Regions from separate parts of the Homo sapiens genome. Here region 1 is linked to region 2. The links come from fine-mapping of genetic effects on plasma protein levels. Region 2 holds a variant in brackets. A gene starts in the other region. All regions are shown on their reverse strands. Region 1 holds the start of APOE (apolipoprotein E). Region 2 overlaps FADS1 (fatty acid desaturase 1).

The links. A credible set is the group of variants that fine-mapping cannot tell apart. PIP is the posterior inclusion probability: the model's chance that the variant is causal. The UK Biobank Pharma Proteomics Project read protein levels with antibody pairs (Olink). The fine-mapping took linkage between variants from a reference panel, not from the people measured, so its PIPs are less certain.
Region 1: it holds the start of APOE, and the variant in region 2 is the best candidate, but not a certain one, in a credible set for the plasma level of the APOE protein (UK Biobank, PIP 0.56).

What each region holds. Positions count from the first base shown.
Region 1 is chr19:44,900,482-44,908,481 of GRCh38, reverse strand. APOE (apolipoprotein E) reads right to left here and starts at 2,686. Exons shown (of 4, transcript NM_000041.4): 1 at 2,641-2,686; 2 at 1,815-1,880; 3 at 530-722. The coding sequence starts at 1,857. TOMM40 (translocase of outer mitochondrial membrane 40) reads right to left here. Exons shown (of 9, transcript NM_001128917.2): 6 at 7,630-7,752; 7 at 7,378-7,454; 8 at 7,172-7,274; 9 at 4,793-5,452. The coding sequence ends at 5,313. RefSeq lists enhancers at 962-1,764, 2,567-3,369.
Region 2 is chr11:61,799,038-61,807,499 of GRCh38, reverse strand. FADS1 (fatty acid desaturase 1) reads left to right here. Exons shown (of 12, transcript NM_013402.7): 6 at 776-836; 7 at 2,739-2,815; 8 at 3,733-3,830; 9 at 4,041-4,137; 10 at 4,389-4,468; 11 at 4,574-4,699; 12 at 5,038-7,873. The coding sequence ends at 5,089. Among named protein-coding and RNA genes, the nearest start is that of FEN1, 10 kb to the right of the region's middle. The variant G/A (reference allele first, on the strand shown) is at 1,432.

The sequences.
Region 1 (8,000 bases), not on the chromosome of region 2:
GCTGGGATGGGGCGGGCGAGATGGGGATGAGCCAGAGAGACCCAAGAGGGAGAGAAGGAACGGGGCAGAGGCCGAGAGAAGGAGACAGAGACAGATGCAGAGAGCAGATGCAGAGGGCAGAGGCAGAGACGAAGAAGGAGCTAGGAGGCCGGGCAAGGTGGCTCATGCCTCTAATCCCAGCACTTTGGGAGGCCGAGGCGGGAGGATCGCTTGAGCCCAGAAGTTCAAGACCAGCCTGGGCAACACAGTGAGACCCCATCTCTCTGTCTCTATATAAAAGAGCTAGGGAAGGACAGAGACAGAGCCAGGACGAGTGTGAGAGACTGAGTCAGAAGGGAAGAGAGAGAGACAAAGCTGAGAGAGAGAATTCCAGAGAGCTAAAGCCAGGAGTCAGAAATGGGAAGAGGAAGCTAGAACCAGCAGAGACCCAGGCCCCCCAAGACTTAGCGACAGGGGCAGAATGAAACCTGGACCTGGGGAGGTATAGCCGCCCACCAGGAGGGTCAAGGGCCAGGATGGGGACACTCACCTCAGTTCCTGGGTGACCTGGGAGCTGAGCAGCTCCTCCTGCACCTGCTCAGACAGTGTCTGCACCCAGCGCAGGTAATCCCAAAAGCGACCCAGTGCCAGTTCCCAGCGCTGGCCGCTCTGCCACTCGGTCTGCTGGCGCAGCTCGGGCTCCGGCTCTGTCTCCACCGCTTGCTCCACCTTGGCCTGGCATCCTGTGTGGAACAAGTTCAAGGTGGGTCAGGGTCCTTCTGACCCCGTCCAGGCATCTAGTACCTAGGGGCACACAGAAGGTGCTCCACAAATGCTTCTTTGGAGCCATGGTGGGCAGGGTGAGGGGGGAGTCGGTTTAATCACTTGGAAAGCATTATGTATTTATAAACAGGGTCTTGCTCTGTCACCCAGGCTGGAGTGCAGCGGCCTGAACATGGTTCACTGCAACCTTGACCTTCTGGGCTCAAGCGATCCTCCTGCCTCAGCCTCCTGAGTAGCTGAGAGCACAGGTGTGTGGCACCATGCCTGGCTAATTTTTGTATTTTTAGTAGAGACAGGGTCTCACTATGTTGCCCAGGCTGGTGTTGAACTCCTGGGCTCAAGTGATCCTCCCACCTTGGCCTCCCAAAGTGCTGGGATTACAGGGGTGAGCCACCGCGCCCAGCGGAAAAGCATGTATTGAGTGTCCTTGTGTGCCCCAGGCAGGGCTGTGTGGGGGTGATGGAGAATAAAGATCACAGCTGCCCCGTGTCTGGTATTCACTATCTGCCTGCAATGCATTAGAAACCTCTAACTCCCAGCCAGGTGCGGTGGCTCACGCCTGTAATCCCAGCACTTTGGGAGATCGAAACGGGCAGATCACCTGAGGTCAGGAGTTCCAGACCAGCCTGGCCAACATGGTGAAACCCCGTCTCTACTGAAAATACAAAAAAGTTAGTCGGGTGTGGTGGCATGTGCCTGTAGTCCCAGCTACTTGGGAGGCTGAGGCAGGAGAATGGCGTGGACCTGGGAGGCGGAGCTTGCAGTGAGCCGAGATCCCGCCACTGCACTCCAGCCTGGGCGACAGAGCGAGACTTCATCTCAAAAAAACAAAACAACAACAACAAACAACAACAACAAAACAACTTCTAACTCCTATCTCAAGGATGGGGGAAACCGAGGCCCAGAGAGCGTCAAATCGCTGTTCAGAGCCAGGAAGCAGCACAGAAGCCTCAGAAGAGGGGGCCCAGGGTCTGCCTGAATGGGGCCAGGAGGTTGAGGTGAGGATGAGAGGGGGAGGAGCGGGGGGAACCGAGCAAGCCCCGCCCCCATACCTGCCAGGAATGTGACCAGCAACGCAGCCCACAGAACCTTCATCTTCCTGCCTGTGATTGGCCAGTCTGGGGAAGGAGAAACTGTCAATCAACCGCCAGTGAGGACTCCTCCCACCCCCAGCCCGGCCCCAACCCGGCCTCACCCCAGGTTAGCCTTCCAAGCCTTGTTGCATTATCTGCAACAGCCTAATCCCAGCACATTTACCAAGCCGCCCCCAACCCATTCCCTATTTAACTCCCTCCTGGTCTTCTCTTATCTCCCCATCCCCAGGTCGGCCTCCATAGAAAATTCCATCTTCCTCTCCCGGGGTTCAAATTCCATCCCCCCACCCCCTCCCCACCGCCGGTTCCATCTCAGTCCCAGTCTCGCATTCCTCATTCTCCCTTCACATTCTAAGCTCCAACCTCACAGTTAAGCGCCGTGTTCCATTTATGAGCTAATTCAGTCCTCATTTTAAAGTTCTCCAATCGACGGCTAGCTACCGTGTCGCTGCCCCTGGCTCCCCAGTTATGGAGATCTGAGGACACTGGGGACACCCAGTAGGTGCTCGATAAATGATAGTGACAACTCGTGGAGTCCTGCTATGGCTTACATCCCAGTCCAGCTGCTCTCCCCACCCCACCTTCTAGCGGGTCGGGTCGTCTCTGCTGCCCAGCCCTTCCCAGGTCCAGTCCCCTGCTGCTTGCCTCACCCCCGCTCCTCCTCTCCCCAAGCCCGACCCCGAGTAGCTCTCCTGAGACTACCTGGAGGCCAGGGGTTCCCAGGGTCCCAGCTCTTTCTAGAGGCCCCTGAGCTCATCCCCGTGCCCCCGACTGCGCTTCTCACCGGCTCCTGGGGAAGGACGTCCTTCACCTCCGCTGGGGCTGAGTAGGACTCAAGGATCCCAGACTTGTCCAATTATAGGGCTCCCCCTGTCCCGCCCCCTCCCCCAGGGATAGGGCGGGCTGGGCCAGCCCCCAGTCACGAGGTGGGCTGTTCTCCCCCTGCCCCAGGCACAGCAGGGCAGAGGGAGGAAGGAGGTGGGGCATAGAGGTCTTTTGACCACCCCCCACAGTCCCCAGGAAGGGAGGACACCTCGCCCAGTAATACAGACACCCTCCTCCATTCTGGGGGCCAAGCGTGGAAGGGGAATGTGGAGGCTGCCGCCCAGAGTCCTCCTTTCCTGACCCTGTCCTTTCCTGTGCCTGGATGAATGTAATCTGGAGAGGGGGCTGGGGATCTGGACTCCTGGATCCCAGAAAGAAAGTAGGGCTAGGGGGCTGGACAGAAGTGGGATGGGAGGGGCTGGGGGCGGTAGCTCACGCCTGTAATCCCAGCACTTTGGGAGGCCACAGTGGGCGAATCACTTAAGGTCAGGAGTTTGAGACCAGCCTGGCCAACATGGTGAAACCCCATCTCTACTAAAAATACAAAAGTTAGCCAGGCGTGGTGGCGGGCGCCTGTAATCCTAGCTACTTGGGAGGCTGAGGCAGGAGAATCGCTTGAACCCGGGAGGCGGAGGTTACAGTGAGCCGAGATCTCGCCACTGCACTCCAGCCTCAGCAAGAGGGAGACTGTCTCAAAAAAAGAAAAAAAAGAAAGTGGGGCTAGGCGGCTGGACAGAAGTGGGATGGGAGGGGTGGGAACAGTATGATGCACCTGCTAAAAGTCGAGGCTTTGCAAATGGGACCTGGGTTTTAATCACAGCTTCCTCTTTGGTTGTGACCTTGAGCACAGGGGAGCCCCCTCCCCACATGTGAAATGAGATTCCAGCACCTCCCCCTGGCTGCCACAGGTATTGTGGTTTCCAGGGGCTTGAAGCCGTGCTTCTGGGTTAAGGTTAGGATTCTGGAGTCAAATTGCCAGGGCGTGAATCCTGGCTCTGCCAGTTGCCAGCTGTGTGACCTTGGGCAAATGACTTGTCCTCTCTGAGCATCAAGTTCCTTTGCTCATCAGACTGGGAAAGCAGCGGCACGGGTATGTTTGGTGACAAGCTAACGTGTATTGAGCATGGAGGACAGCCCTGGCACACAGCGGTCCTATGTTAGGGCTAGCAATGGACAGGCCACAGTGAACGCTCAGACGCTGTCACTTTCCTAAGCCCTGTTATAAATCCCAGATGTTTCAGAGGAGAAACCCGTGGTTCAGCAGCAAGACGAATGGCAAAACCACACAGTGAGAACTGGGAGAGACTGGGACTCATTCCTGGCTCCTGGAGCGGGTGGGATCAGAAGATTCTGCGGGTCAGGGGAGGCTGAACTCCTGGTTCGAGAAGGAACCCCCAGTGCCGGGCCGGGCCTGTTTGCTTTGGCTGGCAAGGGGTGGCTGAGGTGGGGTTGGTAACCTGGGGTTGGTTCTACTCAGCAGCCTCCTTCCCCAGACCCTGGGGGCAGACAGGGTTTCAGTTCCTGGAGGCTCGGGAGTCGTGGTGGGCATCAGCTGACCCCAGCCCTAGGTTGGCAAAATCCAGACAGCACCAAGTCCTCAGACACAGGTGACCCAACTCCCATGGCTGGCCTAGGCCCCTCCTCCCAGGCCTGCGAGTCCTTGAGCCCCTTCTCCCTGACACAGCAGTTCCTAGTACCCTAGTTGTTCTGAAGCTGTTCCAGTAGCTTGAACCCTCTCCCAGCTCCCTGCCCCCATCTCTGCACTCAGAGACAGTGTCATCTCTGCTGCTGCAGTCTGCAGGGACAAAGTCCTCTATAGCCACTCCGGCCAGGTCAAGCTGGGGGCAAGTGACCTTGAGACCCTACCCTCAGGCAAGGGAAGGCCCGTAGTGTCCCCCAGCAGGGCAGATGTTCCGGATGGGAAGATAGCGACCCCAGGCCACGCTGCGCCCCTCTGAGCCGGACTTAAGGCAGCATCAAGGATCCGCTGCTTTCCGTGCTCCGGCCCTCTGGCGCCCCCTGCAGGCGGCTGGGGGAAGGTCAGGGCGGCCAGACTCCGGATGAAATGCTCAAAACAGGCCAGACACACTTGAGAAAACGGAGGCCTCCCATCGTTTTTTTTCCCACGTATATTTTTTGTTGTTTTTTGTTTTTTTTCTGTAAAATGTCCCGGTTCTTCCATAACTTATAAACATGATTTATACCGAGGAGATGGGAAAGTGGACGGGGCAGGGTGGACTGACCGGGGATGGGGAAGCTCCTCTCGCTGCCCCCTCGGGGCGGGCCCAGGCCCTTTGGAGGATGGGGACGCCAGGACACTCCTCCCTGAGGTTGTCTGGCCGCCTCTGCCCCTGGTGCTCAGAATCCTGCGTGCCCCTCAATTCCGGAATCCCTCCCGGGACCCCAGGCCCACTGGGCATGCTGCCCCTGCTACTCAGAATCCCGAAGCGCCATTCAGTTCCAGAATCCCCTCCTCAGCTGCTGGGGTGGCGGGGTCCCTCCTTTCCAATGTCCCCCCCGACCCCCAAGGGGGGAGGGAAGGGAGGGGGGCTCAGGTCTCCCCTCTGTGGCAGGGGGAGGTGGAGGTGGAGGTGGAATCGGAAGGGCGTGGAAGGCGGGGGCCAGGAGGGCTCAGCCGATGGTGAGGCCAAAGCCACACTGAAACTTGTTCTTGCGGTGATTCAGGAAGGCCCCAAGGGCCAGTGTCAGGGGCAGGGGTGGGAGCTTCTTCTCCAGCGTGGCACCCACGATCCAGTTGCTATCCACAGAGCCTGCAGGGAAGAGCTGAGGTGAGAGGCGTGCCAGCTTCCCACCATATCCATGCAGAGTTCCTGGCCACCTTGGATACCAGCCACATGCCGACAGCTTCCAGACCTTTAACCACACTGCTCCTGCCACCCTGAAACCCCATCACACCAACAACTTCACGCTGGAGCAAATGGCTCACTCCTCCTCTGCTCTCCGCTCAGTGACCCCTGCCCTCTGAAAAGCCCTCTAGACCCCTGGGTTCCCCCAACCTAGTCCTGCCCACTCTGCGGATGAATCTGTTCCTCTCACTGAGTCCCGTGAAGACAGGGCTGGTCACCGCTGTGGCCCCAGCAGTGCTCAGCAGGAGGCTCAAACACCCAAAATCTGTGAGCCACAGATATCCAAGAAGACTTAAGACTGGACATTGGGACTACGACCAGTGTGCCTGAGATGAGGTTCTGGATTTAGTTGTGACCTTGAAACCTCTGGAAGCCTCAGTTTCCACTAACGTAAGATGAATGGGGCAGGCTCGAGGCTTCCAAAGTGCCTTCTACCCTGGCTGGGTGTGGTGGCTCACACCTATAATCCCAGCACTTTGGGAGGCCAAGGCTTGAGTCCAGGAGTTCGAGACCAGCCTGGGCAACATGGTGAAACCCCCATGTCTCCCAAAACTATCAAAAAAATTAGCTGGGCCTGGTGGCATACACCTGTGGTCCTAGCTACTCAGGAGGCTGAGGTGGGAAGGCTGCTTGAGCCCGGGAGGTGGAGGCTGCAGTGAGCCGCAGTTGCACTGCTGCACTCTAGCCTGGGCGACAGAGGGAGACCAGTCTCAGAAAAATAAGAGAGTCAAGTGCAGAAAAATAAGAGGGGATGGACAAAGCTCCAGCTTGGCCCAAACACCCATCAGATGCTCCACCAGATTTTTTTTAACATTTATTTATTTATTTCATTTTATTTTTTTTGGAGATGGAGTCTCACTCTGTCACCCAGGCTGGAGTGCAGTGGTGCAGTCTCAACTCCCTGCAACCTCCGCCTCCCAGGTTCAAGTGATTCTTGTGCCTCAGCCTCCTAAGTAGCGGGGACTACAGTTGCAGCACGCTACCACACCTGGCTAATTTTTGTACTTTTAGTAGAGAGGGGATTTCACCACGTTGGCCAGGCTGGTCTCCAACTCCTGGCCTCAAGTATTCTACCTGGCTTGGCCTCCCAAAATGCTGGGATTACAGGCGTGAGTCACCACGCCTGGCTGCTCTACCTACTTTTTTTTTCCAAGCATAAAACATAGTAGAGGGTTGTCCACCTACTTTTTTTTTTTTGAGATGGAGTCTTGCTCTGTCACCCAGGCTGGAGTGCGGTGGCACGATCTCGGCTCACCGCAAGCTCCGCCTCCTGGGTTCATACCATTTTCCCGCCTCAGCCTCAGTAGTTGGGACTATAGGCACCCGCAACCACACCCGGCTAATTTTGTTTTTGTATTTTTAGTAGAGACGGAGTTTCACCGTGTTAGCCAGGATGGTCTCAATCTCCTTACCTCGGCCCGCCTTGGCCTCCCAAAGTGCTGGGATTACAGGCGTGAGCCACCGCACCCGGCCCCACCTACCTTTTAACAAGTGTTCCCTGGTAATGTGGAGGCCCACAGGGTGGCAGCACACTGTCCTCCAGCACCTGTGGTGGCCCACACATCCACTCAGAGTTGAGTCACCTCCTGCCTGTTTCCCGCGTAGGGGAACCGAGACCTTTACCTTTGAAGAGGAGGTTGGCCTTGGGCAGGTCCAGCTGGTACCCGAAGGAGACGCTGGTGTCCTGCATCCTTGTGCTGGCCTCAAACTCCACACCCACCTGCAGCTGGAGGGGCCGGAGCAACACATGAGAATTAGCAAGTGGCCCCACCTGGACTTCCAGGCCCAGCAGCCCCTGGCAGCACCAGCTAGTCCCTGCACCCACTCACCTGGTCACTGGCTTTGTGGTAGTATGTTGCGTGCATGCCCGCCTGGCCCAACGTTACCGTTGCCAACCAGTTGTTCACTGTCAGAGAGTGGGGTGGAGGCGGGGTCTCATTACCAAGGGGATTTGGGCATCTGGGAACCCAGGCCTCCTCCCTCAGACCTGAGTGTCCAGGGCCCTAGCCCGTCCTCCCTCAGACCCAGGAGGAGTCCAGGGGCCCAGCCCCTCCACCCTCGGACCCAGGCGCCAGGCTCACATGTGTATTTCCCAGCTAGAGACATGACAGTGCCCTCCTCTCCAGGCCGCCGGTGGTAGACCAGCTCTCCACCCAGGGCCAGGCAAGGCGTGATGCTCTGGAGGTAGTGGGCTACGAGGATTCCTGTGGGCAAAATGACGATCAGTTTCCACCCACCCTGAGTGCCAGGCTAGACTCCACCTCCAGGAAGCCCTCTAGGCTCACCCCGGCTGGAGGCTTGGGCTTGCTCTCAGGCCTCCCTCAAGGGCTCCTTTCTCCTAACCCATCGCCCAGGGGTTCCCTACCGCTGAGGTCAGCGTCCCAGGCCCTGCTATGACTGCATTACCTGAAGGACCTCATCTGGTCGACACAAGCCCATGTGGTCAGCATTT
Region 2 (8,462 bases):
CTCATGTTTAAGTCAAGAGACCAAAAGATTTTGATGGGGAGAATTAGGGGCTGGATATAGAGGGAATACTTAACCTGTATAGGGGCAGATATGGTTGTCCATGGAGATTCTGGTGTGAAAAAGTACGATGGCGGCCGGGCGCACTGCCTCACACCTGTAATCCCAGCACTCTGGGAGGCTGAGGTGGGTGGATCACCTGAGGTTGGGAGTTCAAGACCAGCCTGAACAACATGGAGAAACCCCATCTCTACTAAAAATACAAAATTAGCTGGGCGTGGAGGCACATGCCTGTAATCCTAGCTACTTGGGAGGCTGAGGCAGGAGAATCGCTTGAACCCAGGGAGGCAGAAGTTGTGGTAAGCCAAGATCGTGCCATTGCACTCCAGCCTGGGCAACAAGAGCGAGACTCCGTCTAAAAAATAAACAAAAAAGTACGATGGGAGAAAGGGGAGAGGGCAGTGGGGCCTGGAAACCTCATGACAAAGAGAATGAACACAAGAGGGCCTGTGGTCCTGTAGACTCTGTGCTGTGCACATCCCTCATGTGAGCATGGGCCATCCAGCTGCAGGCCATGGTGTGACACACTCTGCAGATTACAGTCTAGGGCTTCATGTTCCATGTGCTGGAGGTAAGGCTGGGCCTCTTGGAGCTTTCCAATAGCACCAACAAGCTGTCAGCCCTGGAGGAGGCCTAAACCTCCAAGCAAGGAAAGGTCAAGTCACAGAGGGAGGAATCACTGGTCTCCGAATGCTCATGTGTTTGCTTTTCTTCACAGCTTGGGAAACAGAAGAAAAAATATATGCCGTACAACCACCAGCACAAATACTTCTTCCTAAGTGAGTGTCCCCATCCAACACAGGGGAGCTGCCTCAGGAGGGAATGCTGAGGGAATGAGGAGGATGTGGCTGTCCAAGGGATTATGGTATTTTAAGGAAAGGGGCTAGAGGAAGTACCCCACTCCCACCCCCAGTTACTCCCTGCATGACAGCAGTTTGCCATCTCAGCTGAGCGAAGTGAAGTTAGGCTGATGATTGGTTGAAGGCAAACTAGTTCTTCCCATCCAACCCCAGTTTCCACTGGGAAGCTGGGTGTTTGGGGTGTAGAGGGGCCTCTTGCTTTATCCTCAACCTTATCTTTTTTTTTTTTTTTTTGAGACGGAGTCTTGCTCTGTCGCCCAGGCCGGACTGCGGACTGCAGTGGCGCAATCTCGGCTCACTGCAAGCTCTCCGCTTCCCGGGTTCACGCCATTCTCCTGCCTCAGCCTCCCGAGTAGCTGGGATTACAGGCACCCGCCACCGCGCCCGGCTAATTTTTTGTATTTTTAGTAGAGACGGGGTTTCACCTTGTTAGCCAGGATGGTCTCGATCTCCTGACCTCATGATCCACCCGCCTCGGCCTCCCAAAGTGCTGGGATTACAGGCGTGAGCCACC[G/A]CGCCCGGCCCCTCAACCTTATCTTAAACTTTGTCAAGATGGGCCAAGGTAACCTGGTAGAGCCCAGTCCAACCCCCAGAGGAACAAAGGTACAGATAGTTCTGGAAGGATGGGTCCTGAGGAGAGAATGGAAGAGCTGTTAGAACGAAGAAGATCTTTCTGATGACTGCCACATATTCCCAGCTTTAAAAGTCTGTCCCAGCTACTAAGGAAACTGAGGTGGGACCATCCTTTGAGCCCAGGAATTTGGGGCTGCAGTAAGCTCCGATTGTGCCACTGCACTCCAGCCTGGGCAACAGAGTGAGATCTTGTTTCTTAAAACAACAACAACTCTGCTCCATAATGCCTAAAATGAGCTTTAAACGCCTTTAAATTTTCAAATTTTTTAAAGAAGGAAGGGAAGGAGTCCACTGATCTTATTTTAGTTTGAAGGAATTCATCCTAACTGCCTATCACCAACTATCACGAATAGAGAAAGGCGATGGGGCAGAAGGGTAGAGCAGAGACCTCTGGAAGAAATAGTTTTAGAATCCATGGCACATCAAGATGGAGGAGCCATGGGTGAGCATTGTCATGCTAGGAGTTATGGGTAGCATCAGGTGCCACAGAGAAGGGCTACAGAAAAGGAAATGAGGAAGCATGTAGAATGCAACACTTCTTCAACTCCCAGTTTTCTTTCAAGAGAGGCCCCTCTGTTCCGTCCCACAGCTGACCTCCAGGGCTTCAGATTGGGGTGGCACAAGCCCATCTCCCTAGTTTAAGGAAGTGAGCTTCACAGCCTGTGAAGGATCCACAGGGTCCCTCCCAACACACACACACTTTCCTGCTCCTGCCCCTTCACCTGCATGGTGGAGCTGCCAGGAACAAAGGGCAGATGACTGTAGGGACAGGGCTGTGGCCAAGGTAAGTAAGAGAGTATTAGCACCCTTTTAAAAGTGTGGGATCCTTGGAGTGTGTATGTAGAAAAGAGAAGAAAAATGAAAAATAATAAAGGTGTGGGAGCAGAGCAAGTCCCATGCGTGGGGCCTGAGTTCCCAAGCACCTGTCACTGAAGAGTGCCACTCGCACCCCTCACCTTCCCTGGCATCCTCTTGGGAGTTTTTGCCTTCCCCAGACTTGGATTTATGCCCACCTTCAGTGCCTGCTGGTTCCAGTGGATTGCAGAGCACTCAAGCACCTGGAGGGGAGACAGAAGGGATGGTTGGAAGAGGCAGCCCCCTGCTAGAGGCCATCTCTCCCAACATCAACTGGCCCTTTCATGACCTTCCTGTGCTCATGCCTCCTCTTTGTCTCGGTTTCCTCCCCAGTTGGGCCCCCAGCCTTGCTGCCTCTCTACTTCCAGTGGTATATTTTCTATTTTGTTATCCAGCGAAAGAAGTGGGTGGTGAGTATCCATGGCCCAAGAAGCCCACATCCTTGTCTCCAGCACCCAGAGTGGGGGATAGGGGTTCCCCAGGGGAAACTTGAGACTGACTCTAGGCCTAATTTAGAACAAAATAATAGAACCAGACACAGATCCTCCTTATCTCTAAGTGGGACGAAATGATTTGAGCTTAGCAGGCAGCCTGATTCCCAATGTGTAATTTCATGCGGTCAGTGTCTCCAGAGGTTCTTGTACTGGGCATAATGCCAGGGGGCTGAGTTGGGAATGGGGAAGATGAATGAGAGACAATACCTACTTTCAAGGAAACTTCTGATGAAGCAGAATGTGGTTATTAATCAGAAAAGAGGTACAGGCAATAGGTTCTGGGGACTCCAAAAGGGGCCTGACTGCACCTGGCTTTGTGAAGTCACTTTTCTAGCTGGCCTTGAGGCTGGGCAGGGTTTCTGACAGGCAGAGGTGGAGCAGGGGGGATGAACTCTGAGCAGAGAAGCTGGAAATGAGGGGTAAGTTTGACCACCAGACATATTGTGGAGGACTAGTGTCAGGGGAAGAGTATGGTGCTTGGTTCAGTGATGAGAGATTTGATCAGGGCACTGGCATGGACTGAGCCATGGTCCTGGCAGATTCATTTGGCGGCATGCTGAAGGATTTAGATTGGCTAGGAAGAGCTAGAGGCAAAGAGACCTTGTAGGCCTTGGTACTTTTGAAGGGGACATGCAAGAAGGGCTGGGGGGTGCCAATGGGAATGGAAGAAAGGAGCAGTGGCACTAGATACTGCAGGATTGGACCCCTGAGAAGCTGAAGATGAGTGAGTCTGGATAACCAGGAGAATGGCTGCACCATGCAAACAAAGAGCTGCTGAGAGGAAGAGGAAGAGTTGTTCGTGACTGTTATGCTCGCTGCTTTTCTCACTATAGGACTTGGCCTGGATGATTACCTTCTACGTCCGCTTCTTCCTCACTTATGTGCCACTATTGGGGCTGAAAGCCTTCCTGGGCCTTTTCTTCATAGTCAGGTAGTATTCGGTGGGGGCGGATAGGGACTGGTGAAGGAAATGTTGGGGAGTGACCAGTCTGGTCTAGGGGCCGTGCTGGGGCTTTGGGTAACAGTGGGTGTTTCAGGAGTTGGCTTGGGAAAGTAGACAGGCTGGAGCAGTTATCTGAGGGGGGAATCAGAATTCTGGGCTCTGTGTGTACTGTTTTTGTCTGTGTAATACATCTAACAGGTTCCTGGAAAGCAACTGGTTTGTGTGGGTGACACAGATGAACCATATTCCCATGCACATTGATCATGACCGGAACATGGACTGGGTTTCCACCCAGGTAAGGGACAGTCACTCAGAAGACTGGAGCATAACACAACTATTGAAAAGGATGCGTAGGTGAAAACAGCAAAAACAAAAAGTCCCCCAAACAGCATTTTCTCATTAGCCTGAGGCTCTTGTTCTGCAACCATGTGAAGGGAGTGACCAAGACAGTCTCATGTCCCTTCCTCAGCCAGCTTTACCTGGAGAATGCTGGGCTGGCCTTTCCATCTGATATTCAACATGCTCTCCCCTGACCTTTTCCGCCAGCTCCAGGCCACATGCAATGTCCACAAGTCTGCCTTCAATGACTGGTTCAGTGGACACCTCAACTTCCAGATTGAGCACCAGTGAGTAGGGAGCCTGGGGAAGCAGGGTCCTGGGGAGGGTGTAAGTGTTGGGTACAGGTGGGAGCAGAGAAGCAGGAACCACTGACTCCCCCGTTCTCCCTAAAGTCTTTTTCCCACGATGCCTCGACACAATTACCACAAAGTGGCTCCCCTGGTGCAGTCCTTGTGTGCCAAGCATGGCATAGAGTACCAGTCCAAGCCCCTGCTGTCAGCCTTCGCCGACATCATCCAGTGAGTATCTGAGACCAGGAAGATGGCTAGTAGGGAGGGAAGAGGGCAGGGCAATGGAAATGATGACATGTAGGGTGGGGAGTGAACAGAAGGTGTTCCCAGTCGTGTGGGATGGAGTTCACCATGGCAAAGGCAGGATTCTTTATTGGACCTGTGGCCAGGTCAGGCCTTTGCCCTCATTGGGGTTCCCCTCAGTACCATGGCCCAAGCTAGCTTTCTCTAAAGTAGAGGGGAGGAAAACCTCCAGATGGAAGAAGGCCTTAACCTCACTGCTCCATCTCCGGTGGGTTCAACTCTGCTTGTCTCCCTCACTGTCTGCCCCCATTTTGTCCCTGCAGCTCACTAAAGGAGTCAGGGCAGCTCTGGCTAGATGCCTATCTTCACCAATAACAACAGCCACCCTGCCCAGTCTGGAAGAAGAGGAGGAAGACTCTGGAGCCAAGGCAGAGGGGAGCTTGAGGGACAATGCCACTATAGTTTAATACTCAGAGGGGGTTGGGTTTGGGGACATAAAGCCTCTGACTCAAACTCCTCCCTTTTATCTTCTAGCCACAGTTCTAAGACCCAAAGTGGGGGGTGGACACAGAAGTCCCTAGGAGGGAAGGAGCTGTTGGGGCAGGGGTGTAAATTATTTCCTTTTTCTAGTTTGGCACATGCAGGTAGTTGGTGAACAGAGAGAACCAGGAGGGTAACAGAAGAGGAGGGACCTACTGAACCCAGAGTCAGGAAGAGATTTAACACTAAAATTCCACTCATGCCGGGCGTGGTGGCACGCGCCTGTAATCCCAGCTACCCAGGAGGCTGAGGCAGGAGAATCGCTTGAACCGGGGAGGTGGAGGTTGCAGTGAGCTGAGATCACGCCATTGTACTCCAGCCTGGGCGACAGAGCAAGACTCCATTTCAAAAAAAAAAAAAAAATCCACTCATATAAAAGGTGAGCTCAGCTCACTGGTCCATTTCTCAGTGGCTTCTCCATCCTCATTTGCAAACCTCAGAGGGATAAGGCAGTTGAACCTGATGAGCAAGAATTATAACAGCAAGGAAACATTAATGCTTAGAATTCTGAGATCCAGCACAACTCAGTCTGTGGGAGCTCAGCTCGCTGCCCAGGGATAGGTATGACCTATGTCTGCCTTAGGCTGCTGGGAGATGCCATTCTCCAGTTTCAGAAGCAGGCAGGGCAAAGGTCAAGACTGTGGTATTGGGGTCTTTTGGCTCTGAAGGATCCTGGAACCACTGATTTTGGTTTATTCCCTCCAGGGTCTAAAGAGAACAAGAGGTGCTAGCTCTTACCAAAACAGATGGTAGAGAGAGTTGCTGGCTATTTAAAAAGCTCTTTCATCTTTTAATTCACCTCTTCTTTTCACCTCTTTAACCACTCCTCAGGAACAGAACACTTCTAGGACTGGGGGTCTTTTAGCTCCATAAGCAAGTGAGCAGATGGGACAAGTTAGTCTTTTCTCCCTAGAAACAAAGGGGATGCCCAGTGGTTTCCCTTTGCTTCCCAACCTAAAATTTCAAGTTTAATAAAATAGCAATTAGCAGAAGTGACCAAATTGGGAGATAATTATCAGTCATGAGGAAAGACACAGATTTCGGTCATAAAGAATGTAAGGGCTATAAGTAGAAACTTTCTATAACCTAAATGATGTTATAGAATTATTTTTGAGCAGGAGCAGAAAGATTAAATATGATCACTTCATACTTCTAAATCAGAAATAGGAAGATTAAAACCACAGAACAGTTTGTGATTTCTATTGCTGTAGCTAGGTATCTTACTCTGTCCACTCTTGTTCAAGTATCTAACTCTTCTGGAAACCAAATAGGCTTTAGAAGAGATTATCCTATATTCCTATCAGTATAATACTAAAATGTAACTTTTTAATCATCTGGTTTTTAAAAGATAAACAGTTTAGCCCATCTCTCCAGAGAGCAAACATAGGAATATGACTCAGGAGCCTCCTAGGGCTTATCATCAGCCCTCACACCCGCTTCCCCCTCCAACCCACAGCCTTTGCTTCCAGGTGGCAGGATTACTACTTTGCCTCTTCAGCAGCATCTACTCTAGGCATATTGATCATTTTAGACACTGGGAGAAGAGAACCTCAAACTAGGAGGAAAAGACAGAGCCTCCACTTAGTTTTGGGAGGGGATGGCAGACAGTCAAGGAGATGAGCGTCCTAAGGCATGTTGGGATAGGGTCAGATGCACCACCCATGGAGAGGTTTGTCAACACAAAGACATGGAAGGTTAGAGGTTTGTCAACAAAAAGACATGGAAGGTTAGGTTTGTCAACACAAAGACATGGAAGATTAGAGGTTTGTCAACACAAAGACACAGGAAGAATGGGCTGCAGAAGATTTAGATGTTTTCCATTTGGGCACATTTTACTTAGCTGGAGAACTAGGTTTAAAACAGCCTGGGTAGGAAAATTAGAAGCAAGCTGGATGCAGTGGCTCATGCCTGTAATCCCAACACTTTTGGGAGGTCCAGGCAGGAGGATCACTTGGGCCCAGGAGGTCAAGCCTGCAGCGAGCTGAGATCACACCACTGCACTCCAGCCTGGGGTGATAGAACAAGACCCTGTCTCAAAAAAAAAAAAAACAACAAAAACTTAGAATTGAGGAGTTGTACCTCCATTGGCTTCCTCACTCCAAAATAGGTGCTGATCCTTCCTATTCCTATTCTTTGCCACCTTTTGGGTGTGGTGTCACCAGCCTGTTTAGCCAAGTAGCTTTGGGCATAGGCTGCCCAATCTGAGCAAACACCAGTGAGGCTCTATTGAGCCAAGACCAAGTCCTCAAAGCACCTGAACCACTGTGGCCTTCTCAGCCTACAGCAGTGTGGTCTCTTACATGGCCACAAAGGGACACACAGTGACAAAAGGCTCGGAATGTTACAATGGTAAAATGAGTGATCTCAAATCCACTGACAGATATAAAATAGGCTTAGAGAGGAAAAGCTGCCTCTGGTCAAGTAGATCATGGCAGCATGAATTCCAACTCACTTTTTTACAACTCCAACTTCTATGTTTATCTTTGTTACTTTCACTTTTTTACAACCTGGCCAGAGGCATTTTTTAAATCAGGCCCAATATCAGTATTCTTTTTGTGTGTGCCAATTTTGTTATCACATCCCTATGAAGTTGAAAAATAAAGTTAATTTTGACCAAAAGACTTCATTTGTAACCCATGATGTTCATCTGTGTGTGCACAGGATTCCTGAGTGCCTCTGCTACGAGTTACTGTTCACCTCTCTGTGCTCTTAAGTTCTTGAATCACTAGACTCCCCTTTGTATTGGGCAGAGGAAGAAACATCAGGACCCTCCAGAAAACACCAAGGCAAGGGTGAAGTATGGCAAGGAAGAGCAAGGCAAAGTCCTTCTGATGACTCCCGTGTTCAAATGTGAGATTGTCAATAATCTCACCAAGTTTCACACGTATCACTTCCTCCTATTCATGAGGCAATGCCCTTGCCCTTTTGTCCTTCAGCTTTCCATTTTGAATTATTTTCTCTTTATTTTTACACTTACTTGTTTTGAGACAAGGTCTGGCTCTATGGCCCAGGCTGGAGTGCAGTGGTGCTGCCATCTTAGTTCACTGCATTCTCTGCCTCCCGGCCTCAAGCCATCTTCCCACCTCAGGCTAATTTTTTTTTTTTTTTTTTTTTTTTTTTTTTTTTTTTTGAGACCAGAGTTTCACTCTTGCTGCTCAGGCTGGAGTGTAGTGGCGTGATCTCAGCTGATTGCAGCCTCCGCCTCCTG